4 separate regions of the Homo sapiens genome follow, and regions 2, 3 and 4 are each linked to region 1. Evidence: fine-mapped expression QTL. A gene starts in region 1. Each other region holds a variant in brackets. All regions are shown on one strand. Distances are between the middles of the regions.

Region 1 (5,000 bases):
CAATGTTTTAATAACTTTTCTGCAAATTGTCATCATTTGTTTTACAAGAAGATAGTTTAAAGTATATTTTATAAAATAAGTCTGAGGGAAATTAAAATTATGCCAAAGCCTCTTTTGCCAGGATTAACAGTTCACTCTTACATTTTGGGTCTATAGATATGCAGGATGGAGGTTGGGCCTGGTGGCTCATGCCTGTAATCCTAGCGCTTTGGGAGGCCAAAGTGGGAGGAATGATTGAAGCCAGGAGGTCGAGACCAGCCTGAGCAACATAGCAAGACTCCAACTCTAAAAAAAAAAATTAGCTGGGCATGGTGGCATGCGCCTGTAATCCCAACTACTCAAAAAGCTGGAACAGGAGGATCTCTTGAGCCCAGGAGTTCAAGGCTACAGTGAGCCATGATTGTGCCACTGCACTCCATCCTGGGTGACAGAGCAAGACTCTGTCTCCTAAAGAAAAAAAAATTACCTAAATTCTAATATAGGTCTGTTCTGAATCACAGCTCCACTCTATAAGTTCAGTTTGGCAAGCGGCCAAGAACACAGTTGTGAGTGGCACCCACACCAGGGTTCTAATCCTGGCTTTACACTTAAGAGCTCTGTGAGCTTGGGAACCAAGCAGGGTGACCCTGAACCTCAGCTTTGTCATAGGGAAATGAGGACTGTAATCCCAGTCCCATAAAGATGCAGGGAGGATTTCATCAAAGGAATTCATAATAAAATGTCTGGCACATTGTAAGTTCTAAAAACCTGCAGATGTTACCATTCCCTCCTAGTACTATCATGTCTTATATGTGCATAGTGACTCATACTCCACAAGGTGCTTTCAGATCTTTTGCCTCATTTAATCCTCAGGCAATGCGATCAGTACAAAAGGCAGTAATTACTACCCCCATTTTTCTTTTATCTTTTTTGTAAACAGATGAGAAAACAGGCTCAAAGTCAAAGAGCCCGAAAAGCGGGTATCTTGTCCACGGTTCTTTTTGCTCTGTGGCACAGAACTGAACCTCAGAGGACTTCATGTACCATGCCGAGCACAGGAGAACTACATGTGTTTTTAAATGCCCTACTATTCCTGCATTAATCAAATCAAACTGGTATTCTCACATTACTCCCAATTATTTAGATTTTGCCTAGGAAAAATAGCAACTAAGGTTTTTTGAGAGTGCACTGGGTATTTCAGGCATTGGGCGAGGTGCTTCACTTCCACCATCACAGTTAAACCGCATAACAACCCTATGAAGCAGGTACTGTCATAGTCTCCTGCATGTCCAGGATTGACATGCAGGCAGACTGTCTCCAAACCCCAGTTCCTATGGTCCTAGTGCTGTCCAATTCAAATTTGTCCAGTTGATGATAACACTTTGCAAATTGATTTCCCATACAACAAACCTAACGACACATGGAGGCCAGGCTATGAGTGTTCTCCTTTACATTTCAGGAGACTGAGGCTCTGAGAGGTTAAGCGACTGACCCAGCCCTGTCCTCACCCAGCAAGAACACAAGGCAGCACTCCCTAACTCCAAATCTCACTGTCTTTGGAAAACCTCACATTTTAAGAGTGAGAAGGTAGAAGTCCTGTCATTGTTGAAAAACAACCATCCACAATCATCACTAAGAGTTGACAGCGAGACCCGCGCTCCAGGCGGTGGAAACCGAGCAGTCTCCGGCTTGGGCCATCCCCGTTACTGTAGCCAAGTAGGAAGTGGGCGGTGACACTGATTTCAGAGCAGCCCCTAGGGAAGGCACAGGCACCAGTTCCTGGTCCCGCTCCCAGCCTCCTCCCTCCAGGTCCCCGAAGGGGTGGAACCCGAGATCCAGCTGGGTCTTGGGGTTAAGGCGGGCGGGACGTCCCCTGTCCCGAGGGGGCGCAGGCTGGGGCGCACCGCAACGAGAGTGCAGGCGGCGCAGGTGTCCCAGGACGGGGACGGATCCAAACCCCAAGCACGCCTCTGCAACCTTTCCCGGTCACCTGGACACGCAGCGGGGGCGCGGGTCAGACTCCTACAGTTTCGCAAACTGCGGGTCCCGGGGATCGCTGCACAGTCCTGGGTCAGGGACCTGGCCCGGCTCGGCGCTGGTGCCGGGCTGGCAGCCCAAGACTCGCTCTTCTCTCAACCTCGCACGCCTCGCGTCCTGCCTCAGTTTCCCTCACCTCGAAAGGGGTTGTTAACAGAGGCACGCCCTGACCTACGCGACTTCCTGGGGGCCAGAGCGCGCCCTCCTTGCCAGGACCCCCCCAGGACGTGCTAGGACTCTGTGGCAGCTCCCCTACCTGCGCGGTGGCTCACGCCGCCGCCGCCGGCGGCGGCTGGGGCGCCCTGAGGACCCCCGCCTGGCATGCGCCCCGCTGCCAGCTCCTCCCGCTCCGCCTGGGCTGCCTCCTGCTCCTTCCCCGAGGCCAGAGGCGGGGGGAAGGGAGCAGCGCGCTGGACGGGAAGTGGGGAGGGGGCTGGCGACGAAGGGGGCGGCTCCTTTCTTCTCCTCAGCGAGTCCGCTGTTTCCTTTCCAGCATTGGCCCCTGACGCGCGCGCGCGCGCGCACACACACACACACAGACATACACACACACGCTGCTGGAGCGGGCGGGGCCAGCGGCCCTCACAGCCTGTCTCCGGGATCTCAGGACCTCAGAAAGTTTGCTTTCACTCTGACTCATTTCTGGAAGAAACAAGAGGGGAAGTGCAGGAAGCCTCCAGGATGGGGTACAGGAGGGCGCCTTCCAGACGCATGATTTAAGAAGTGACCACACAGTGATGGAGAAGATGGAGGGATGTGAGGGGCTCATTTATACAAAGTGGGGGCGGGGGGGAGGAGTGGGGATAACTGATGACCCTGGAAAGAGATGAGTGGGAGCAGATGTTTAGAAATGAGATAGGATTCCAACTTCTAGCATCTTCCAGCAGCTCCGGGCTGGTTCCAGGACACAGAAGTCCATGCAAGCTCCTAGGCAACTGACTCCCCCCTTCACCCCTTCTCTTTGGTTCATTCAAGGAAGCTACTGGAGCACCCCCTAGGTAGCACCTGCTATAGGACAATGGGTACAAGGAAGGGCTACACATGAGCTCTTTGCCCTTAAGCAGCTCACCTCCAGGCTAGAAGGAGAGCACGTGCATAGAAAACGAAATCACAACATGAGATAGAATGTGCCATGTGCCAGAGGCTTGGCACAAAACCTCTTGCAATGGTTCAGGGATAGGAGGGAGAACTGTGAAGAAGAAGGGTTGGGGAGACGTTCTGCAGGAATGGGAAGGATCTCCTTAGAACGAGAGGAGTTAGAACTAGAGGAAGGCTGAGGTCCTTCAAAAGCTGAAGATCTTAAGACTGAAAGCACACAGTTGTACTTAAAATCAGTGTGTTTGCCCGGCATGGTAGTGCACTCCTGTAGTCCCAGCTACTCGGCAGGCTTAGGTGGGAGGATTGCTTGAGTCCAGGAGTTCAAGGCTTCAGTGAGCTATGATGGGGCCACTGCACTCCAGCCCAGGTGACAGAGAGAGACCCCCCACACCCCCACCACATCTCTAAAAATAAATAAATGTATGAATATCTAAGGCCAGGCACTTTGGGAGGCCAAGGTGGAAGTTCACTTGAGTCCAGAAGTTTGAGATCAGCCTGGGCAACATAATAAGAACCTCTTTTTTTTTTTTAACTTTTAAGTTCAGTTTGTTACATAGGTAAACTTGTGTCATGGGTGTTTGTTGTACAGAGTATTTTGTCACCCAGGTATTAAGCCTAGTGCTCATTAGTTGTTTTTCTTGATCCTCGCCCTTCTCCTACCCTCCGCCCTCCAAAAGGCACCAGTGTGTGCTGTTCCCCTCTATGCGTCCATGTGTTCTCATCATTTATCTCCCACTTATAAGTGAGAACATGCAGTGTTTGGTTTTCTGTTCTTGTGTTAGTTTGCTAAGAATAATGGCCTCCAGCTCCATCCATGTCCCTGCAAAAGACATGATCTCATTCTTTTTTATGGCTGCATAGTATTCTATGGTATATATGTACCATATTTTTTTATCCAGCCTATCATTGATGGGCATTTAGATTGATTCCATATATTTGCCGTTGTGAATAGTGCTGCAGTGAACATGTGTGTGCATGTGTCTTTATAATAGAATTATTTATATTCCTTTGGGTGTATACCCAGTCATACGATTGTTGGGTCAAACAATATTTCTGTCTTTGGGTCTTTGAGGAATCACCACACTGTCTTCCACAATAGCTGAACTAATTTACACTCCCACCAACAGTGTAAAAGTGTTCCTTTTTCTCCACAACTTCTCCAGCATCTGTTATTTTTTGACTTTTTAGTAATACCCATTCTGACCGGTGTTAGGTGGTATTTCATTGTGGTTTTGATTTGCATTTATCTGATAATCAGTGATGTTGAGCTTTTTTTATATGAATGTTGTCCACATATATGTCTTCTTTTGAAAAGTGTCTGTTCATGTCCCTTGCTCACTTTTTAATGGGGTTGTTTGGTTTTTTCTTGTAAATATAAGTTCCTTATAAGATGCTGGATATTAGATCTTTGTTAGATCACAGTTTGCAAAATTGTTTTCCCATTCTGTAGGTTGTCTGTTTACTCTGTTGATAGTTTCTTTTGCTGTTCAGAAGCTCTTTAGTTTAATTAGATCCCAGTTGTCAATTTTTGCTTTTGGCATCTTTGTCGTGAAATCTTTGCCCATGCCTATGTCCTGAATGGTATTGCCTAGGTTGTCTTGCAGGGATTTTATAGTTTTGGGTTTTACAATTAAGTCTTTAATACATCTTTAGTTAACTTTGTATAAACTGTAAGGTAGAGGTCCAGTTTCAATCTTCTGCATATGACTAGCCAGTTATCCCATCACCATTTAGGAAATTCTTTACCCATTGCTTGTCAAAACCCTTTCTATAAAGAAAAAAAAAATTAATTAGCCAGCACAGTGGCCTGTACCTGTAGTCCCAGCTACTTGGGAGGCTGAAGCAGGAGGATCACTCTAGCTCAGGAGGTCGAGGCTGCACTGAGC
Region 2 (5,202 bases), 170 kb before region 1:
CAATAGGGCTTTTAAGAATCTTACCTAATGGAGTGAGGGTTTGCCCATTCTGAAGGTATTGAAACAGGAGAAAACAGAAATAGCATTATATGCAGGAGTTGCAAACAAATGTTGACCACCTTAACACTAGTATCACCTATGGGGACAGCCCATTGACTGAAAGGCCGGTCCACCAAAGAGCATACAGAGCAACCAGAAAATAGTGAGGTCAAAAGGTCAGTTACCAGGAGGGTTAATTCAGGTCATCCTTCAGCAGATCAGGCCTCACCAATTTTCTCAGCTGACCAAAGAGCTAAAACAGGAAACCTGCGCCATACGCAATATACCATCTTGGGCATTTTCCCTGGAGTCTGAAGAGAGATTGTTCACATTGGAGTGAGGCTATCTCTGCTGCCTGAATTATACATTTCTTCCCTTGGGCTTAACACAGACTCATCCACCGGTATTCCTGGGAAAGATATATTGATTAAGAAAGGCAAAAACCCTAACTCAGAAGCAAGACTGTGTTCAATCTTCTTTTTTTTTCTCTCAGCAAATGGGCCCATAATTTCAAGTAAATGGCATGTGAAGCTGTTAAGAGCCAAGCCCCACATTTGCGCTGCCATGTTCTACTGGTTGTAAATAATACGCGTGACTGCACCAGGGACCAAATTGCTCTTTAGCTGCCAACATTAGTTGTTTAATGATCTGAGGAGCAGAAGCTGCCAATTATTGTATTCCTTCTTAAAATACCATTTAAAACACATACATGTAATTATTATAACTTTTTGTTAAATTTTTATGATTCTTTTGAAGCTGATGAGCTCTGGGTCCATTCAACCTATAAAACTCAGAGAACTTTTTGAAGCTGTCATTACATAACTGGGTTAAAAATCCATATATAATACACCGAGAGAGGGCCTGGACTTTAGCCCCAGATCTGCCACTGCTTAGCTAATTGAGTGACCTTAACCAAAGGACACATCCCGCAGCCTCAACCTCCCCATCAGTCCATTCGGATCACGGTCTCTCTCCCATCTACCTAATATAGCAATTGTGAAAATAAAATAACAAATCCAGAGGAGTGTTTGAAAGCACTAATGATAGGATAAGATACTGTTTTCAGAGACTCTTGACTTCAAGCTACTAATTAATGGAAAAATCAATTCCTTAATAACTGCCAGAGTAAGAGGGAGCATAATCCTTTGAGGATTCGCCAAGTTTCTATGACTAGATTTTCAAACTGAGGACATTAATTTGTCTCATGTTACCATCCTTCCCTCTATAGAAAGGGTCTGATCACACCCAATAATCCTCATTCAGTATTTACAGATACACAATGCTACATACACATCTGCTAGAATCATATGGCACACAGAGTACATTTAGTCTCTAAACTCTTCAAGAAACAGGAACTAGAAATCCCAAATACGGTACTCACTTAAACACCTTGTGCTATATTATGTGCATATTAGTGAAACTTCCCAGAAAAGCTTTCAGATGTCTGAGAATGACATAATAACAGTGGAATGTTCATCGAGGACAAAACACGATGTGCTGGTAGCTGTCATTATTTTAGTTGGATAGCTTCAACGTCTCCTACACTGCCAGTTACCTGATATGGCATGCATTTTGGCTTCAAGCAAGGCTGGTAGTTGGGTTTCAATATCGTTAACTTTCTTCCTCAGGGTGCTGCAGAATTTCTCACTCATACACACCTAGGGGGAGAGAAATGACCAGGAATCATCATTTATTCAGCTAAAAATCAGAAGGCAGTGGAACAGCCAGGTCAGAGATTTCTGGGTTTGTAAGTAATTAAAAGGGGTGATGAAAAGTAATTGGAAGACAATGTTCAAAAAGCAAGCAATGGAAAAAGAAAGACAAAGAAGAGAGGGAGAAAGGGAGGAAGGGAAGAAGGGAGGAAGGGAGGAAGGGAAGGAGGGAAGGGGAAGGGGAAGGGAAGGGAAAGGAAGGGAAGGAAAGAGAAGGGAAAGAGGGAGGGAAATGTAGGAAGAAGAACAAAAATAAAGTGAGCAATGGCATATTCCAAGCATATGCCCATCATCACCCCACATCCAATTACAAAACTGATAGGAGCTAACAGAGAGCAACCACAAGGTAACATAATTGCATCACTCCTGCCTCCTGCCTTCTCCAGGCCTCTGCCGAATCCTCCTGTCTGCATCACTTTTGTAGTCCCAGGTGGTTTGGCTCACTCATACCCTTCCAGACTGCTCAGTCGCTGCCTGGGAGGAAAGGCCTTACTGATTACCCAC[C/A]CAAAATAGCAACCTCCCTTGGCCCTCCCTCCGCTTGATGTTCTTCCACAGCTTCTTCTCAGATGATACACCATGTAATTCTATTCCTTTGTTTCCACATTGTCTCTCTGCCGGGATACGAGCTCTATGTGAGCAGGGATTTTGCTCTGTGCCTGGCACATAGTACGCAGTGAATAAAGATATGGCCATTGAGATGAAGGTCAAAGCTGCAAGCTAAATTTAATTACTAGTATTAATAGACACTGTTTAGGGAAACTTTGAAGGCAGATAGATACTTGCTGGCAAGTCAGATTTGAAAAATAGACAAGTAACTCTCAGTGAGGTTTGAGAGTTTTATCATGTATTTTCCCATGACATTCCAAACACATCCTACAGTTTTTTTCTTTGGTTTTTCAAAAATAGCAAAAATCTTAAATCTTAATTTCTTTTTCCAAATGTCTTTAGGTTATCTTTTATTTTGTTGGAGGCTAAAACATCACATTTTTTTCCTTTTTTGAACCCTTTCAACAGTCTCAAGACTTTTCATATGCCAATGTTATCTAGACTCAGATTAATGAGCTACCTAGAAAAATTTAATTTCCCAGAAGAATCTAAGGTTTGTGGGACACCATCAACTTTAAATGTTTTCTTATATCAGTTTGAATTGAGATTATTTTTGGAGTCAAAGCAGACCTCATCCATCCTGCCTAAAATACTCCACTCTTTCTCTCATGGACTTCCATATGTTCTATTCAGTGGCTGTAATTTTCCAACATCTTTTTTATAAAAATCATTCTCTGGATGAAGACGACAGTTTGGTAGCCTCTAAACCAAAGCATGCACTGGTGATGTTGGGCATCCGCATGTCCAAAGTAATTAATTCCGAGACCCTTTCAACAGTCTTGAGACTTTTCAGAGTTAAAAGGAAGATATCCCTTCCCCCAGCACCAAGTCTTAGTTTGGCTCAAACCAGATGACTGGCACATCCCATCCTATCTATTTAATAATGTCATCTGAGGTCTGAGGGCATTTCCATTAACTCTGTAATACCAGCCATAATTCTTATGTCTCATCCAGTCTATGTCCAATATTTCTGATTTTAGTGAACAGTATCTGTTAATCATAATTGAGTCAGTTTCTCCTTTGTTGAGCAAATCTATCTTTCAAGCTGTCAATATTAATACTAAACAACCTTTCTGAATCTTCTTATTAAATTGCAATGTTCATTCTTTCAGGCTCTGCTGGATGTAATCTAATATCTACCAATCTCCAGATATCCCATTTATTTCCAACTGTTTCTTCCATCTCATTTATCCCTTAATTACTTTTGGTTTGGGTAACCCATAAGAGTTTAAGAAATGTAATGAGTGCAAGGAAGGTTTCATTTCTTTCTGAGACAGGAGTCTAAAGAATATCAGGTAGGGGTGTGTGTGTATGTGTGTGTGTGTGTGTGTGTGGTGTGTCTAACACACTAGAGAAAGAAAGCTATGTCAAGCTGAGACCTTGGTCTCAGCTCATGGTCACTGGTCAATCTAGTTTAAAGTACAGAGAAAGGTGTTTTGTGTGACTGGACAGTTTTGTTTTAATTCTCTGTGGACTAATATAGGCCCCTGCCCACAACACACACACACATTCGTGTCTGTGCACACACACCTATCCACCTCTGCACACACACATACACATCCCCGGAAAACCTGTGTATCCTTTTTATTTACAAATAAAATTGGACACCAAGGAACTCATTATCAAATGGGGCTTTTATGTTTACATTTTAAAATCAAAGATGTGAGTTCCTTAATTTTATGGAAAAGCGAAGTAATTATAAAGTTTTATAAATGTATTAGAGAAGGTATGTGCAATGGTTGGAGATGTTTTTTTCCCCCCAGAATTCATAGGTTGAAAGTCTAACTCCCAAGGTGATGGCATTAGGAGGTGGGGCCTTTGGGAGGTGATCAGGTCATGAAGGTGGGGCCCCCATGAAGGGGATTAGTACCCTTATAAAGAAGCCCCAGAGACCCCGCCTTGCCCTCTTTCTTCCATGCAGGAATACAACAAGAAGTCAACCGTCTGCAGCCTGTAAGAGGGCCTCTCACCAGAACTTAGCCATGCTGGAACCCTAATCCCAGACTTCCAGGCTTCAAAGTGATGGGAATTAAATTTCTGTTGTTTATAAGCCACCTCGTCTACAGTACTTTGTTATAGCAACTCAAATGGAGTAGGACTGTATGCAAACAAAACAACCCATTTTTGATATTTGGGAAAATCTAAGATCTTTAATAGTAGTTGGAAATTTTCAGCAAATCCTAATATTGGGTGCGTATCAGTATATGTGTGTATCCACAATATACAGTGTCATACACACACCCATATAAGCACCATCTGCATTATATAATAGGCACACCTGTATCCTCAACGTTGGTGTACAGATGCATTCATATTACCCATACAGTATGTTCTGAAGATAGTCAATAAACTCAGACCCAAGACAGTCCTCCCATCTTTTAATTCTACATAGAAATCAGGACGCACCTGATAAACAGCAGAAAATGTAAGAGAGGCCAGGTGCGGTGGCTCTTGCCTGCAATCCCAATTTTGACACACTGAGGCAGGAGGATCGCTTGAGCTCAGAAGTTCAAGACCAGCCTGGGCAACCTAGCAAGACCTGGTCTCTACTGAAAATCAAACAAATTTAGCTGGGCAAGGTAGCATGTGTCTGTAGTCCCAGCTACTTGGGAGGCTGAGGCAGGAGGATTACCTGAGCCCGGGAGATCAAGGCTGAGTGAGCTATGATCATGCCATTACACTCCAGCCTGGGTGAAAGAACCTTTGGGTGAGCAGAGCAGAAGTCAAGCATTTCTGGGTCCCTGGCTCCGATGCTGTCTTACGGGCACCACTTGTTCCTAACAGGAAGCTCTCTTTGTACACAAGTTATAATTACCCATCAAACCTGCGGCTCTGTGACCTTTAG
Region 3 (5,202 bases), 23 kb after region 1:
AGGGGCTCCTCACTTTAAGGAAATCTGATATTCAAAATCCAAACTGAAGTAGGAATAACAGCTTGTTCATTGAGCAGCTACTGTGCACCTTGGCATCACACCAGGAGTTTTCTAAACATGACCTCACAACTGCACAATTCTGCCAGGCGAAATTATTAGCCATATTCCCAAGCCAGGCACTATGAGCTGAGTTGTGACTTCCAAAATTCAAGTGCTGAAGCCCTAAGCCCCAGTGCTTCTGAATGTGACCGTATTTAGAAATAGGATCTTTAAGGAGGCAATTGGGTTAAAATGAGGTCATTAAGGGTGGACCCTAATCTAATATGATTGATATTCGTATACGAAGAGGAGATGAGGCCACAGACACAGGACACAGACACACCCTGAGGGGTGACCACGTGAGGGCACATCAAGACAGCAGCTGCCTGCAAACCAAGAGAAGCAGTCTCATAGGAAACCAACCCAGCCAACACGTTGATCTCAGACTTCCAGCCTCCAGAACTGTGAGACAATACATTTCTGCTGTTTAAGCCACAGTCTGTGGTACTTTGCTATGGCAGTCCTAGCAAACTAATGCACCAAGGAATCGAGTCTGAAAGTCTAGTTTTTGTCCAAAATCACGAAGACTGTGTCAGAGCTAAAAATGCAGTCTGTGCTACTGCAAAACTTACACAACAGAAGGGCCCTCTCCTGTACCAGAAGGTTTGCTCCAGGCTTCTGAGTATCAGCTACACTGTTTCATCAAAACACAATTCATTTGACAAAAGCCACTTGCCCTTCTGGCAAAAGAGATCTCAAGCAAAGAAAATTCTACTGATTTCACTCATGCCCCCTTGTAGATGGTGATGTTTCTATAATGAAGCATTTAAAGATTCTGATCCCATGTCAGAAAATCTGGATGGACTGTTATATATGAGAGAAAAACTACGTTTGCATATCGATCAATGAATGAAAACAACCTGAGAAATGGAAACCATTTGATTTGGTGAAGTAGGAGCAAATGAAGTAAATTTTTAAGTAATGTTTATTTCCCATGTTATATAAGGTTATCTGAAAAACAAACATTTAAAATTTTTCCTTTTAAACTTTTTTCACATTCATATTTAATACACCTTTTGCACTAATTGCCAGAAATTAACACCCCTCAAAACGTGTGTGTGTGTGTGTGTGTGTGTGTGTGTATGTATATTTTAGATTGAGTCTCACTTTGTCGCCCAGGCTGGAGTGCAGTGGCGAGATCTCTGCTCACTGCAACCTCTGCCTCCCCAGTTCAAGCAATTCTCCTGCTTCAGCCCCCCGAATAGCTGGGATTACAGGCGTGCACCACCATCCCTGGCTAATTTTTTGTATTTTTAGTAGAGATGGGGTTTCACCATGTTGGCCAGGCTGGTCTCGAACTCCTGACCTCAGGTGATCTGCCAGCCTTGGCCTCCCAAAGTGCTAGGATTACAGGCATGAGCCACCTTGCCCGGCTCTATTTATATATTAAAAAGACCTTTATAAATTTAAAAACTTAAAATATATATTATAAAAGTATCATACACATGTGACAATAAAAATTCAAATAGAATTTTAAAAATTCAAATAGGACTGAAGGGAACAAACTAAAATATAAGTGGTTGCCCAAGAACCATCTTTAAGCATCTCTGGGTTTTAGTTCTTGCAATGATTACTTCTCTTTGTGACACTGTGTTATTTTGATCTTGACATTTTTAAAGAAAACATGGATTGACAGATACAAATGTCTTTGCATATGTCAAAATACTTTTAAAAATAAATAAAGGGGAAAAGAGCCTCTCAGAAATGGCCACTAGGTGGTAGAAGTTGACTAAAAACTGCTTTATTCGGTAGAGCCATCTCGATTGCTGCCCGCGACTTTTTTCCTCTAGGGAGAAGGGATTTCTTCAGGGTCTTCTCCTGAGATATCCAACATCTCCTCCTCGAGCCCCTTTGCTTAGAATGCCCTGTAGCCATTTTAGACTGCACACAAATGGAGATAACACAAGCAACTTCTCACCTTCCAGAGGGCAGGACAAGATGAAGAAGGAAGATCTTCAAAAGTGAAAGGTTAAGAAAGACAAGTACACACCCATACACACACCAGTCCTACCAAGGCAATGGTGACAGCAGGAAGAGATGGCTGCTCTTCCTCCAGAGCAGCTGTGATGCAGACCCACCTGTCACCCAAGAAGGAGAAAAGTGAACAACAGCTTCTGCCCTAGTGGAGCCTGAATTAACTCATAAGTCGAAATCCCCAGAATCTCTTTGCGCTTTGGTCTGTGCTATTGTACTTAACACACGCTCAATAAAGACTTATTGATTTGACTTAATCTCAAAACCACATTTCTAAAGCACCAAAGGACTATCTTTTGATTCATTAGATGTTTCTTGAGCTCACACAAGTGCCTAAACAACAGGGGAAAAGGTCGTAAAGATAAATAAAATAAAAGCCTTCTGTATTTTTTTTTTTTTTTTTTTTTTTTTTTGAGACGGAGTCTCACTCTGTCACCCAAGCTGGAGTGCGGTGGCGCAATCTCGGCTCGCTGCAAGCTCCGCCTCCCGGGTTCACGCCATTCTCCTGCTTCAGCCTCCCGAGTAGCTGGGACTACAGGAGCCCGCCACCACGCCCGGCTAATTTTTTGTATTTTTAATAGAGACAGGGTTTCACCGTGTTAGCCAGGATGGTCTCGATCTCCTGACCTCCTGATCCGCCCGCCTCGGCCTCCCAAAGTGCTGGGATTACAGGCGTGAGTCACCACGCCCGGCCAGGCTTCTGTATATTTTTCTATATGGCCAAAATGTTTAATGATTCTAAAAACTGAGAACAAACACAAGCAAACAAGTCAAAGGAAGAAAATGTTTAAATAAGAAAAATAAATGGGCCGGGCGTGGTGGCTCACGCCTT[T/A]ATCCCAGCACTTTGAGAGGCCGAGATGGTCGGACTGCTTGAGGTCAGGAGTGCTTGAGGAGGTCAGCCTGGCCAACATGGTGGAACCCCTGTCTCTACTAAAAATACAAAAATTAGCTGGGCATGATTAGCACCTGTAATCCCAGTTACTCAGGAGGCTGAGGCAGGAGAATCGCTTGCACCCGGGAGGCGGAGCCTGGGTGACAGAGCTAGACTTCGTCTCAAAAAAAAAAAAAGAAAAGAAAAGAAAAGAAAAATAAATATCAATAACCCCTTCACACAAGAATTTTATTCCTACAAATTTATCCTTAGAAAATATGTCAATAGAGGCAAAAACTACAAAAGTGAAACTATAAATCTAAATAGCCAATGATTAATAGTTAATTGTAACATTAGTTTACTAGATCATTATCTATCCTTACAATCATTTTGAAGACTATGAAAAAATGAGTCATGCATAATAAGTTTACAGGTTTTTTTAGACATGAATATAACTAAGTTCACTAAAAGGCAAGCAGACTAAGCAGAATAATGTGTCTTCATAACAGTATGCCGATAGTAAGATCCAGAAATTGACTGAAGCACTGTGTTTTCATAAGAAGTACTAAGGATTCAATCTCCCAGCCCATGGCCCACAAATGTGATATGGTTTCACGCCATGGTTATCTTTTGTTTATTATCTTTGTTCTACAGTTGCCATAGCAGTAAAATTTATTTTCAATAGAATTATTAAAGTTTTCTTTGCTAACTAAAGCTTATTTTTGTTTTGCAACCATTAGCAATGTAAATTTACTCCCAACTATGCCAAACACAATGTTTACATTTTGTATCAAATTTTAAGCCTGTAATAAAATGTAGGTATTTATAACCATATAAATGTCCTTCTTCTTGGGCAAGATGAGGGGTTTATTTACCATGGCAGGGTCCAGGTTCTTTTGGCAGTCGTGGGATAGACTATGCCATCCCAAGGATAAAATCAGCTATTTATGCCAATGTTTACATGGGAGAATGAGTGACACTTAAATTCATGCTCTTAAAAAAAAGAAAAAGTGATCCACTTCTGGATGTTATTTGCGTAGATTTTGGCAAGGAAAAACTGAGCTTCCTTGGGCTAGGTCCAGAACCTGCAATCCCAGGACCTCTGCGAAGACCTAAGGGCAGCAGAGGTTGATTAAGCCCAGCAGAGAGATCTATTTCCTGGCTGATTCACAGACATAGCCTTCTAAGTCCTACAAAGTCTCACAGTGTGCAGAGGAGGAAAAGGAGACAAGTTCTGTTGAGAAGAAAGCTAAGGGGTTCTCCATACCTTTCCCATTAGGCTGGAGGACTGACATTGACATCATTAGACCAGCAACTTTATGACCACTGAGTTCCCAAATCTTTAACTTCAGCCTATACATTTCCCCCTAAACGCTTTTTGCTCTAAAATCAAGAGAAATGTATATAATGTGTCTGATTCAGTGGTGCTTTCATATATATGCCATATGTATTATATATATTTCTCAAATATGTATGGGTACATACATTTGTGTACATATTATATATTCATATTTATATAAAAGCTATTTAACTGCTTTAAAAGGATGAGATAGCCCACCAGAAGTTTTGTGATTATGATAAGTGGAATTAAGTCAAACTTTGGTCTTTCAAAATAATAGACAATCAATAACCTGAAATTAATAACTTTTCATTTACACCTATACCAAAATAACATATTCATAAATATAATGAAAAAGACAAGAATGTATAAACTGTGTGTGTATATGTGTACATACGTGTGTGTTTGCATGCACACCCACTAAGAATATGTAAACTGGGTGGGAAATTAGTCTTATAAGAAAAAAATTTTTTAATTTGAAGGAAAATGTAAACTCAAAAAACAATACATATTATTATTATACATTCCCTCTGATAAAGCCTAGAAATCAGTTTAATAAAGGAATATATTGAAAGAGATGTTTAGTACAGTATTTTAAAGCTTGTTTAAGACAGCAAATTCTTTGCAAATGGGAATTAGAAGCTAGGTGCCTATTTCCAGGAAAGAGAGTTCTGTATTGAAAAAAACAAAGGACGTATGTGCAAATAAATAATCACTTCCATTAAATTGAGGGGTCAGAGACCAGCTTGGCAGCTGCAACAAAGAAAAATTTGTCATCAAAACTCTTTGGCCCTTCATTCCTAAAATAAATTTGGAGCTAATTAGCTTTCAAGACTTTTCCGGGTTTTTTTCCACAGTGACAAGACAAAGAAACAGACTTAAGATAAAAACCAGATGTCAAAGTTTACTGGTCATTTGT
Region 4 (5,202 bases), 400 kb before region 1:
CCCAAGGCCATTCTGTACCTCCTTGGAATAGACTATCCACATGGTAGGTAAGCATGTAACTTGTTAAAATGTCTGTGTTTGCAATTAGCAAAGGAGTAAGACAGCAGGACAGGTGCATTCAGGAATAGATGATAAGGCAATATTGTCATTTGGGGTACCATTTGCAAAAGATCCTGGAATTCTTTAGATGGAGTCTTCTGTTTTTATAAGAAAACAATTGAGTGTTTTACTGTTAATGAAGTGTCCAAGTAAGCATTTCAATGGCTTAGTCAAATTTAGGTCTTCGGTTCATCTGACCTAGTTTGATTCAAAAAGAAACAATAGAACAAGTTGAGCATCCCAAATCCCCAAATCCAAAATCTGAAATGCTCCAGAATCCAAAACCTTCTGAGCACTGACGTGATGTTCAAAGGAAATGCTCATTGGAACATTTCAGATTTGGGATTTTTGGATTTGGTATGCTCCACTGGTAAGTATAATGCAAATATTCCACAATCTGAAAAAAAGCAGAACTTCAAAACACTTCTAGTCCCAAGCATTTCAGATAAGGGACTCTCTTATCCTTTGAAAGTGCTACTCTTTTGCTACATTATTTCTTCTTACCACCATTCCTTCCTGGGTAGCCACTACAGCCCATAGTGCTGGAGAATTTGGTACTGGAGATCCTCATGGAAAAGCCATGAGGATCACAGTCTTTCAAGAGCAAAGAGGAAAACCTTGACTATACCCAAGATTGATTCAAAGGATTTGATGCTTGTACACAGAAACTCTGTGTTGCCTACCTTGTGCCAAGCCCACCTCGTGCTCAGCCAGCAGCAGGACAGCCCTGTGTCTACGCCCTTGCCCTCCCCCACCCACTGTGGGGCTCCAACTCTTCCCCGTCCCACTCCAAAGCCAAGTGAGAGCCTAAGGAAAGAACTGTGACTACTATATCTGCACCAGCCCATCACACACAAAGCTTTAGATACTGTCATCTTAGGCTCTGGGTTTTCTTTCTTTCCTTTCCTTTTCTTTCTTTCCTTTCCTTTCCTTTCTTTCTTTCCTTCCCTTTTGCTCCCTTCCCTTCTCCCTTCCCTTCTCCTTTCCCTTTTCCCTTCTCCTTTCCCTTGTCTCTTCTCCCTTCCCTTCTTCCCTTCTCTTCCTTTCCCTTCTCCTTTCCCTCTCCCTTCCCTTTCCTTTTCTTTCCTCTTTTCCTTTTCCTTTCCTTTTCTCTCCTTCCCTCTCTCCTTCCTTCCTTCCTCTTTTCTTTCTTTTTCTTTCTTTATCTTTCTTTCTCCTTCCTTCCTTCCTCTCTTTCTCTCTCTCTTTCTCCCTTCCTTCCTTCCTCTCTCTCTGTCTCTCCTTTCTCCCTTCCTTCCTTCCTGTTCTCTCTCTCTCTCTCCTCTCTCCCTCCTTCCTTCCTTCCTTCCCTCCCTCCTTCTTTGGCAGTGTCTTACTTTGTTGCCCAGGCTGGAGTGTAGTAGTGTGCAGTCTCAGCTCACTGCGACCTCCACCTCCTGGGTTCAAGCAATTCTCACGCCTCTGGAGTAGCTGGGACTACAGGTGTGCACCATCACGCCCAGTTAATTTTTGTATTTTTAATAGAGACAGGGTTTTGCCATGTTGCCTAGGCTGGTCTCAAACTCCTGGTCTCAAACAATCCATCCACCTCAGCCTCCCAAAGTGCCGGGATTAAGATGTAAGCCACCGCACCTGGCCAGGCTCTGGATTTTCTTATCTATAAACTACATGAGTGGAGCTCCATGATCCTCATGATCCCTCTTCCAGCCCCTCAGCTCTAGAAGTGGAAAACATCTCCAAGGAGGCAGGACAGTCTCCCAAAACTCTCGTTACCTTTGTCTGTTCACGCTAAAATTTGGAAAGTTGAACTAAACAAGGGTCCTACGGAGCTGTGGTATTTGTGCACAAACCTGGATGTATTTAGAGCATGCCCTCAAGCACCACCAAAACTAAACAATTGGGCACCATGCACTCCAAATAA[C/G]CAGAGAAACAGAATTCCATAAGGGCTTCCCAGACATGGATGTAAATACAACCACAAATAGAATCAGAGTGTCTCTACCTCGTCTATGACTGAGGGCCAGGCAGAACTGCCCTGAGGGCTTTGAAATATGCCAAAAATGTACATATCACAGGTGTACTTCTTTTCCTTTGAAAGTGTGTTGTAGAAATTGAAGGAGGAAGAAAATGAGAAAATTCCTGCTTAAAAATCCACCTTAATTTGGAAGGCTTTTGGTTACAATATTTTGAGCGTGGAGGAGACCTTGCACACAGTCAAAATGTTTTTCAAAACATACTGCTAATTAGGACCCCAGATGACTGTGAAAATGCACTAGAGACTCACACTAATGCTCCTGGAAGTCCCGACTTGACTGGCCGTGAAGTCACACCTCCTGTCCCCTTCTCAGGCACTAGGCGTGAGCCACCTCTCCACCACCAGCTCTCCCAATTAATGGTGCAGACTGTTTTCAGACACTCGCTGCCACAGTAGCTGATGGGTTTGTGTTGTTCTTTGGTCATGCTACATGTAATTTGGTGAGCCTGTCAGGACGATGAAGAGGCAAAGGCTCTTTCCTCTCCCTCCTTGGATTGGTCAATCAGTGTCTTCTTAATAAAAGTAGGAGACACCCATGAGGCTGCCCATAACTCGGATATTAAATCAGGAGGCCACAAGGACCTATTTGGAAACTCAGTCCCACTGCCCACCCCTAACCTCTGTTGATGCCACACTAATAGCCCTTATGTACACACATGGTTTATGCAAAAACTGAGTGTTTTCCACACAAAGAATAAACATCCATGGTAGCATCTGTGGCTTGAATCTTTCAGACGTGGACGTCCAATGTGGGCTTACATTAATCACATTCCAATGTGGACTTAGATTAATTGGGTACCTCACATGCACAGTAGGCTCTGGCAGCATGCTTAATGGAATCAAACAAAACACTGCACTCACTGTGCAATCCTTCTGTATTGTTGACAACAAGCTGTTTCTTTCAGCCACACTCAGCATTGTATCTTTGATCAAACATGGAAATACAAACCAGTCAGAGTTTGGCTGGAGGATTCTGGCAGCCTCTCTGAATCTCTAGATAAGCTCTAATTTGAAACAACGGCTTTGGTTTGTGTAGGGGAGCCTCCGTAGAGCCTTGTAAACATGTCTTTCTATCTTAGGGCATAATGTTCCACTCAAATTTAAGTGCTGCTTTGTATGAATTCAAAGACACCTTCTGTGTATTTATTCTCAATCAGTGACAGAAGACTGGGATTCGAAGAAAAGTCTGGGTTGAAATCCATATCGTGGTGTAGATTTTATTGGAGGGAGGGAGAGAGCTGACTTCAGTACCTAAACCAGTGCTTCTCCGCTTATCACAACAGAGATCAGTGAAATTCTCAAAAAACATAACATCAGTGAAATACTTTTATTATAGCTTAAAAATTTAAAGTAATTGTGTGTTCCATGGAACAGACCTGTCCATTTACTTATAGGCAATGGCTGCTTTCTGATGGGCCTAATAGGACCATGGGGCTTGTGGCTGAAAAGTTCTGCTACTCATCAGAAATGACCTTGTGTCAGCCAAGTTGTTCCCAAGCCTTGTTTTTTTCGACTGTCAAGTAGGGATAATAATCCCTATCCATTTATAGAAGTTTTATTATAATTAAATGACTTTTCATCTAAGCCACTGTGGAGTTACTGATTGATTCCTTCAAGCATTTATTACAAAATAGTTGAATCAATCTACCTTGAAACTTTTTGTGTATAAATGGGATGTTCTTGGAGCTTGTGACTAATATACTAAGAACTGTGAGACAAATGGACTTGGATAACACTTTTCTACCTAAAATCATGCACTTACCCATGGCTATATTAAATGTACATTATGAATATAGCCTTATTTAACCCCCATAAAAACCTTAGAGGTGTATGTTATCCTGACATTACAGATGGGAACCCTAATGCTTAAAGAGGCATTATCACTTGTCCATGATCCCGCTGCTATTAAATCTGGCTTGGATCAGCTGTGGAAAAACTAAAAGGATCTTGTTTAAATACTGCTTAACCCCTTGTTTTTCAGGGGTCTTTACTAGAGCTGCCTCCCCAGCTCTAGTAAAAATAAGATCCAATTCCCCAGAATCAAACTAACCTTTTAGAAAATTTCACAATAAGAGACCAGTACAGAACCCTGACTGCAGCCCTCAGAACTGCTACCTGAAGACAGAGGTACAACCCACTTAGGAACTGCCCATCTGCTGAGCTGGGGAACGGGAACCCCTTCATATCCATTGACTCTCTGCAGCGGACTCCTCCTCTGTGCCCCATCACCTGCCCATTTGCTGGAAGCCATACCCCCTTACACGTGCTCAAAGATTTGTGATCCCATGAACATGGAATAAATAAAAACGCCATCCTTATTCTATGTTTGTATGCTTCTTTGGGAAACTTTCTGATAATAGCTTAAATACAAGATTTTTAAGAGGCAGGAAATTATGAAGAACAGAATATCTGCTTTTCAAAATCTACCTAAAGCAATGTGAAAATCATTGCAGATTAAGTTGAAGAAATTTTCTGCCCAGCTTAATAAACAAGGTCAAAAATGTAAAGTTATAACAAGGAAGGAAGTGTAGCATTGGCTCTATCATTAAATCACAGATCTGAGTATTTATGACTAAGATTAATCCTTGGCCATTCAAAGCTACTTATACACACACACACACACACACACACACACACACACACAGCCCATAAAGTATGGTAAAAACTGGAATTCTAAAAAGTAAGACAGCAATGACAAGCAAAGACCAAAATAGCTAAATTTGCCACAAACGCATCTAATAAAAGACATTCTACTGAATAGAAAGATGAATGAATAGGGAAGTGTTTTTAGCTAGAGAAGTGTCAACTTGTGATTAAATAACTGAAAGGATATAGGGCTGCATATCCCTTCATCCACTGGGTACCCACCCATTTGCTCTCAGCAGAACTAACCAGTGACAAACTGCGTCCACAGATCAACACAGAATGGAGTGCTTCATACGGATGCATACCTAAGCCAGTATGTTCTCAGGCCATCTTGCTCACTAGCAGCTAGTTTTGATGAAGGTGTTTGTAGGTGTGACACCAAGGATATTAAGTCTGGTGCAAGAAATTCTATCACCGGGAAGCAGAAAGGACTAAATTGAGTTCAACCATGTGTATATGGTTAG

Which allele goes with the higher level. Alleles are on the strand shown, and positions count from the first base shown. SD is a standard deviation of normalised expression in the study named. Not every link is listed here.
For the expression in skeletal muscle of the gene that starts at base 2,417 in region 1, allele A in region 2 goes with a lower level than allele C (moderate effect, 0.43 SD a copy in GTEx).

Evidence for each region.
Region 2: its variant is fine-mapped to the expression of DISC1 in skeletal muscle (GTEx, PIP 0.92).
Region 3: its variant is fine-mapped to the expression of DISC1 in whole blood (TOPMed, PIP 0.98).
Region 4: its variant is fine-mapped to the expression of DISC1 in whole blood (TOPMed, PIP 0.96).

What each region holds. Positions count from the first base shown.
Region 1 is chr1:231,624,207-231,629,206 of GRCh38, reverse strand. DISC1 (DISC1 scaffold protein) reads right to left here and starts at 2,417. Exons shown (of 13, transcript NM_018662.3): 1 at 2,273-2,417. The coding sequence starts at 2,339. The region is part of intron 5 of TSNAX-DISC1 (TSNAX-DISC1 readthrough (NMD candidate)); the gene reads right to left. RefSeq lists silencers at 698-898, 1,872-1,931, 2,262-2,521.
Region 2 is chr1:231,796,603-231,801,804 of GRCh38, reverse strand. It overlaps DISC1 (DISC1 scaffold protein), which reads right to left. Exons shown (of 13, transcript NM_018662.3): 8 at 1,595-1,697. It overlaps TSNAX-DISC1 (TSNAX-DISC1 readthrough (NMD candidate)), which reads right to left. Exons shown (of 16, transcript NR_028393.1): 11 at 1,595-1,697. Among named protein-coding and RNA genes, the nearest start is that of DISC2, 19 kb to the left of the region's middle. The variant C/A (reference allele first, on the strand shown) is at 2,256.
Region 3 is chr1:231,600,803-231,606,004 of GRCh38, reverse strand. All of the region lies in intron 4 of TSNAX-DISC1 (TSNAX-DISC1 readthrough (NMD candidate)), which reads right to left. The region is part of intron 1 of LINC00582 (long intergenic non-protein coding RNA 582); the gene reads left to right. Among named protein-coding and RNA genes, the nearest start is that of LINC00582, 8.7 kb to the left of the region's middle. The variant T/A (reference allele first, on the strand shown) is at 2,906.
Region 4 is chr1:232,027,328-232,032,529 of GRCh38, reverse strand. The region is part of intron 12 of DISC1 (DISC1 scaffold protein); the gene reads right to left. All of the region lies in intron 15 of TSNAX-DISC1 (TSNAX-DISC1 readthrough (NMD candidate)), which reads right to left. LOC124904549 (a long non-coding RNA gene) reads right to left here. Exons shown (of 2, transcript XR_007066941.1): 1 at 1-5,202. Among named protein-coding and RNA genes, the nearest start is that of DISC1-IT1, 100 kb to the right of the region's middle. The variant C/G (reference allele first, on the strand shown) is at 1,982.